Linked DNA regions of Homo sapiens. The gene in region 2 interacts genetically with the main gene of each other region. Each region holds a gene or a part of one and is shown on either strand. Other genes may lie near its edges.

Evidence for each region. A genetic interaction does not mean that the proteins touch.
Region 1: changes in TRAPPC11 (region 2) and FUT8 together harm fitness less than expected from each alone (positive genetic interaction), as found in Homo sapiens cells (one large-scale study listed by BioGRID).

Annotation. Positions count from the first base shown.
Region 1 is NC_000014.9:65,720,230-65,723,729, reverse strand, and holds part of FUT8 (alpha-(1,6)-fucosyltransferase), read right to left. Parts: intron 1,956-3,500; coding exon 1,709-1,955; intron 1-1,708. UniProt on the Homo sapiens protein: Catalyzes the addition of fucose in alpha 1-6 linkage to the first GlcNAc residue, next to the peptide chains in N-glycans.
Region 2 is NC_000004.12:183,686,793-183,690,292, forward strand, and holds part of TRAPPC11 (trafficking protein particle complex subunit 11), read left to right. Parts: intron 1-3,500. UniProt on the Homo sapiens protein: Involved in endoplasmic reticulum to Golgi apparatus trafficking at a very early stage.

The DNA.
Region 1 (3,500 bases), on a different chromosome or scaffold from region 2:
TTGTAAAGTTCTGATACCAAGGGTTTTCCTCTTTATTTTACCCTGGAGAGTCACCATAACTGCCAGCTTGTAGAACTTAAAAGTTGTCCCAGGAAAACATAGACCTGGATAAACTTTTACAGCACCGTTAAGACCAGCAAACCTTTTAACGGTTTTTACTATTTTAGGTAAATGAAACCGATTCCAGCCCTTCTGTTGTGGGCATAATGCATTTCCTTTCTCTGTTTTTCACCATATCAAATGACAGCAGATATTAATTTCACCTGTCATATTTAAGAAAAGCCCCAAAATTGTAAAATTGGGGACACAGATTCACACTTCCCTGTACTGAATAAGGCACTGACTTCCACAGTTTTCTCCTCTCTCCTCCCATCTTAGTGTTTCCAAAGTAATTTTTTTTTTTTTAAGACAAGGTCTTGCTCTGTTGCACACATTGGAGTGCAGTGGCGTGATTATGGTTCACTCCAATCTCTGCCTCCCAGGCTCAAGTGATCCTCTCACCTCAGCCTCCCGAACAGCTGGTACTACAGGCATGTGTCACCAAGCCTGGCTAATTTTTGCTTTTTTTTTTTTTTTTAATTGATGGGGTTTCAACCATGTTGCCTATGTTGAGTTTTCTCAAACTTCTGGGCTCAAGTGATCCACTTGCCTCAGCCTCCCAGTGTTGTGATTACAGGCATGAGCCACTATGCCTGGCCCCAAAGCAATATTAATGGAAATAAAAATAACAGTTTATTTTCATAAATTAAAACACCCTCCTTAAATCTTGCCTTCCCCTCCCCCCAAATTACTAAATCACTATTTATATGTAGAAAAAGGTAGACTTATACGCCTTTAGGTCACAGTATATGGGCCAAACTTAAGGCCAGTTTTTTATTATGAATCTGGAGTGAAGGTTTGATTTCACCAGAGTTACTCTGCCATCTTCACGGCTATTCTTTGCTTTGCATTCCAGACTATAACCCAGATGTGGATACAATCATATGAACATCTATTCTATCATCTTTCCTTCCCACATCCTTCATAATCACTCTTTTTCTGGGGAAATTGGAATTGTTCAGTGGGCTCTATAGAGATGAAGTGGGCAGAACGAATGATTCCATTGAATTTCAATCAAAAGTTACATGAGAAGAAATACGATTTGATATTCTGACTTCACATGTACCTTCTTTACGTCTAACACTTAGAATGGGGTCAATAACTCCTCTACATATGAAGACTAAGACACAAGGAAAGATGTGGGGTGGGAAATATGAAAATAAAAATAAAAAGAAGCTGGACATGGTGATACATGCCTTTAGACCCAGCTATTATACTTGGGAGGCTGAGGTAGGAGGATCACTTGAGCCCAGGGTGGTTGAGGCTGCAGTGAGCCACTACACTTCAGCCTGGGTGACAGAGTGAGACCCTATCTCAAAAATAACAACAACAAAAGCCAAAAGAGAGCTGTGATAAGAGGAGAAAGAAGCAAAGGAAGAGGAGAACTGGAGACAGTAATAGAGCACTACTAAGCAACTTTCTTAGCTGTTCTAAGTAAACAAACAAAAAAAAATAGTCTCCATGTGACCTTAGGATAGCTCTAGAACCTCTGTCCTTTGGTGGGACTATAAAAATTGAACTACATATTGTAAAATTCACAATATATTGTAAAGATACATAACCCTAACTACTACATATCACAGTTTGAGGGAAAAAATCAGATTCTTACCCAATAACTGGATGTTTGAAGCCAAGCTTCTTGGTGGCTTCTTCTATTTCTTTTTCTAGCCAAGGCTGTGGGCGGATCAAGTATTTGACAAACTGAGACACCCACCACACTGCAGGGTCACCATGCACTCGTACAAGTCGATCTGCGAGGTCTTCTGGTACAGCCAAGGGTAAATATGGAGGACGGGGATGAAGACTGTCTACAATGGGAAGCTCGACCACTTGAACATTTTTGTCCTTCACTTCACCTGACAATATTGAAACATATAATCATTACCACATGGTATTCCTTATACATCCACCATTCAACAAGAACTTATTCTGAGTGCTTTCATCCTCACAGCAACTCTAAAGAAGTATAATCTTCACTTTACAAAGGAAGTTAAATAACTTGCTCGAAATACCAGAGCAAAAGTGACGGAGGTGAATTTCACATGCAGGTTAGTCTATCTCTCAAGTCTCTGGTCTTTTCTAAAAGTTTCTATCATAACATGCTATCATACCAACACCTCATGGTATGCAGAACTCAAAGTATCTAATCAAAGAATGACAGTAGACACAGCCAGCTAGCAAAGTTCTATTTTTTGTTGTTGTTTTGGAATTAGAAAATAAAGTGTTCTCGAAACTTCTAGCTTTTCATTACAGCAAAATTGCTCTTGCATTACTTTCATGACAGAACACAATGACTCTGGAAACACCTGAAGATTATAATTATAAGCCAATCATCTACATCTTTTAAAGAAAAAAATTAGATAATTCTAAAATCTTTTTTTTTTTTAATCTATTGGAGGGAGATGAAGCAAGATGGCTGAATAGAAGCCTCAACCAATCGCTGCCCCCACCACAGGAACACCAAATTTAACAACTATCTACACAAAAAAGCACCTTCACAAGAACCAAAAATCAGGTAAGTGATCACAGTACCTGATTTTAACTTCATATTGCTGAAAGAGACACTGAAGAGAGTAGGAAAGACAGTTTTCGATTGTCTACTACCCCTTCCACCCCCATGCAGTGGCCGTGTGGTGCAAAGAATCTGTGTGCTTGGGGGAGGGGGAGCACAGTGATTGTGGGACTTTGCACTGGAACTCAGTGTTACCATGTCACAGCAGAAAGCAACACCAGGCCAACTGGCAAGCAACACCCGGGCCATTAGCAAAGAACTCAGCCAATGCCCATGGAGGGAGAACTTAGATGTGCCCTAGCCAGAGGGGAAATGTCCATCCCAGCGGTTGGAGCCTGAGTTTCAACAAGCCGCACCACTATAGGCTGAAGTGTCCTGGGGCCCTAAATGAACTTGAAAGGCAGTCTAGGCCACAAGAACTGTAATTTCTAGGCAAGTTTTAGTGCTGTGCTGGGTTCGAGAGTCATTGGACCTAGGGGGCACGTAACCTAGTGAGCCACCAGCTGAGGTGGCTAAGGCAGTGCTTATGCCACCCTTTCCCTAATCTAAGGCAGTGCAGTTCACAGCTCCAAAAGAGACTCCTTCCTTCCACTTGAGCAGTAGAGAGGGAAGAGTAAAGAGGACTTTATCTTGCAACTTGGATAACAGCTCAGCCACAGTGGAACAGAGCACCAAGTGGGCTCTTGGGGTTCCTGATTCCAGACCTTGGCTCTTGTATGGCACTCCTGGACCTGCCTGGGCCAGAAGGGAGCCCAGTGCCCTGAAGGGCAAGTCCCAGGCCTGGCAACATTCACCACAAGCTGACTGAAGAGCCCTTGGGCCTTAAGTGAACATGAACCGTAGCCTGGCAATAATCCCTGTGGGCTTGTAGTGGTGGTGGCCATAGGGA
Region 2 (3,500 bases):
TAGCTTATGTTAAACTAGATAAAATGAGCTTAGTGAATTTTATGTCTTAATGGTTTCATAGTAACAAATGAACTTTGGTAAGGTCTATTCAAAAATATATCTCCAGGGCCGGGCACAGTGGCTCACGCCTGTAATCTCAGCACTTTGGGAGGCCGAGGCAGGCAGATCACAAGGTCAAGAGATCGAGACCAGCCTGGCCAACATGGTGAAACCCCGTCTCTACTAAAAATACAAAAAAATCTGCTGGGTGTGGTGGCACGTGCCTGTAGTCCCAGCTACTTGGGAGGCTGAGGCAGGAGAATCACTTGAACTCGGGAGATGGAGGTTGCAGTGAGCTGAGATCGTGCCACTGCACTCCAGCCTGGTGACAGAGCAAGATCTGTGTCAAAAAATATATATATATATATGTTTCTAAACTTCTAGCAATTCAAGTTTACACTTTGCTTACTCCAATTTTTGTTTTCACTCCATGTTTATAAAGTCTTAAGAATTCTCTGTGTGTGTGTGTATATATATATATATGTACACATATAGTATATATATACTTTTTTTTTCTGTCTTTTTTGAGACGGGGTCTCGCTCTGTTGCCCAGGCTAGAGTGCATTGGTGCAATCATAGCTCACTGTAGCCTCAACCTTTTGGACTCCCACCTTAGCCCCCTAAGTAGCTGGAACTACAGGCACCTGCCACCACGTCTGGCTAACTTTTGTATTTTTTGTAGAGACAGGGTTTTGCTGTGTTGCCCAAGCTGGTCTTGAACTCCTGGGCTCCAGTGATCCACCAACCTCAGCCTCCCAAAGTGCTAGGATTACAGGTGTGAGGCATCACATCTGGCCTTAAATTTTTTTTATAATGTATACTTGAATTCCAAATAAGGTATATTCAGAATGAATAGAATTAAAAAAACATTTGGTTTATATTTTACTTCAACATTATTAGTTAATGTTATTAGTTTATGATTATGGAACTAATTTATGTTTGACATTTAAAAAATTGAAATGGAATAGATGGATATAATGTGAAAAGTAAATGTGTGTCTTCTTTCTTCTCCATTCTCCCACACACCCTCTACGTTAACTTCTTGAATAACCTAGACATTTTCTGCACATGAATATATAAGCAACTTTTTTTCTTGCAGAATTGGGATCATATTTCCTGCATTTGAATATATTTGAAGCATTATATAGTATATAGTCAAGTACTTCATTACAACTCTATTATAAACTCACTTAGTAGATAATCATCTTTTGATTACCCAGAAAGTATAGTGAGTCTTTCACCAACAAGCATTTATTGAGAGTTACGATATTCTTAACATGCTGAATCTGAGTATAGCATATGTCGACCTCATTAAAATTTAGGCATTTTGGGGACAAGGGCCAGGACAGAATCAAAGATTGCCCAAATAGGTAATGAAGACTAAATTACGTAGTGTAGGCTAGAAAGAGGGACAGCTGTAGTAGGCATGCCAGAAAAAAGGGAGGGAGTTCCAAGAATGAAGATGAAATTACGATAGGTCGAAAAGATGGAGGGGGAGAACATGTTTGGCAATGAGAAAACACTGCATGGAAACAGAAGCGCACAATCTGTGTTTCTGGGAAAGTCACACCTCACTAGAACAGAGGGTTTATAATGCTGGGTGGTGGGAAATAAGGCCAGGTGGCTTAAAGGAACCTGGAAGAGTTAAGCGGGGATAGGCTAGTAAACAGATGTCTTTGAAGATTTATTTGTTCTTTTGTCTGTGTTCTATTTATTGGATGGTGATAAAGAAACGTTATCTGTTTTATTAGGATTTGATTCATAAGAAAAGAGAAATATCTCTGTAATAGAAATGATTAGATGAAGCTGGGTCACCTGAAGATCAGTATGTTCTATTCAACTTCAGACCCTTGCCCAGGGATTTCCTCTAATCCGTTTGAGAATTTTATTTTAGTGTGTGTGCGTGTGTGTGTGTGTGTTTGTGTGTGTTTTGAGACAAGGCTGCACTCTATCTCCCAGGCTGGAGTGCAGTGGCACCATCTTGAGTTACTGCAGCCTTAGTCTCCCAGGCTCAAGTGATCCTCCCACCTCAGCCTCCTCTGAGTAGCTGGGACTACAGGCACATGCCACCATGCCCAGCTAATTTTTGTATTTTTTTATAGAGATGGAGTGTTGCTCAGGCTGGTCTTGAACTGCTGGGCTCAAGGAGCCCACCCACCTCAGCCTCCCAAAGTGCTGGGATTACAGGTGTGAGCCATCATGCCTGGCCCAGTTTGAGAATTTTAAAGCAAGAGCATGCAATTTATTCTTAAAGTTTTAAGAAACTTTATTCTAGTAGCAAAATAGAAATAATATCATGGAAGCCAATTAGAGGCTCTTTATATTAATCCATGTACAAAAGTACAAGTATCGGAATTGAGTTGCTGGTGTTGGGAATGGAGATTCAGGGATATAAGAGGCATTTAAAAATAGATAAATCTGGATTGCCAAGTGCATATAGCGGCTGAAAAGTGGGGATAGGATGAATGAAGGACAGGAGGTTTTGTACATGCCCTTTCCTCTGCTTGAATTGGTTTGCCCTCCTCTCCGACTACTTCATTCCTTCTTGCCTTTTCTCACTTAAAAGCATCACTTCTTCAGGGAAGCCTCCCCTGACTTACATGACTGAATCACTTAGCCAGGCTCTCATAGCCTTGGTAGTACTAATCACACTGTGGTTTCACCGTTGTCTGTGTGATTATTTGGTAAATTACCTGTTTTTCCTTACTGGAATCTAAGCTCCACAAGGGCAGAAGGGCAGGGGTTTTTTTTGTTTGTTTGTTTTGTTCATTATGAAATTAGAGGGTCAACACAAGGACTCTTTTTTTTTTTTTTTTAAAGAGATACTTTGTTGCCCAGGCTGGAGTGCAGTGATGTGATCATAACTCATCTCAGCCTCAAACTCCTGGGCTCAAGTGAAGTATGGGGACTCTTATTTTACTTTTCCCTTAATAGCCTACTATTTCATTTCTTTTCTTTCCTTTTTTTTTTCAACAAAAAATATAAGCTACTATAATTAAAAACTAATAACGCTAAAATGGAATATAAAGCAATTAGTTTTAAAATTTAGATTATATTCTGAATATATCTTATTTGAAATTTAAGATACAGGCGGGGCGCAGTGGCTCACGCCTGTAATCCCAGCACTTTGGGAGGCCAAGGTGGGCGGATCACTGGAGGTCAGGAGTTCAAGACCAGCCTGGCCAACATGGTGAAACCCCATCTCTACTAAAAACCCAAAAATTAGCTGAGCGTGGTGGCGGGTGCCTGTAGTCTCAGCTACTTGGGAGGCTGAGGCATGAGAATTGCTTGAACCTGAGAGGCGGAGGTTGTAGTGAGCTGAAATTGCATTTCTAGTGGGCGATGGAGTGAGACTCCGTCTTAAAAGAAAAGAAATTCACAATATAAACCATAAGAAAAAAAAAAGTAGAGTAGTTTTTATAAGCATGGAATAGAAATGAAAATTGGCGGGAAAGTATAAT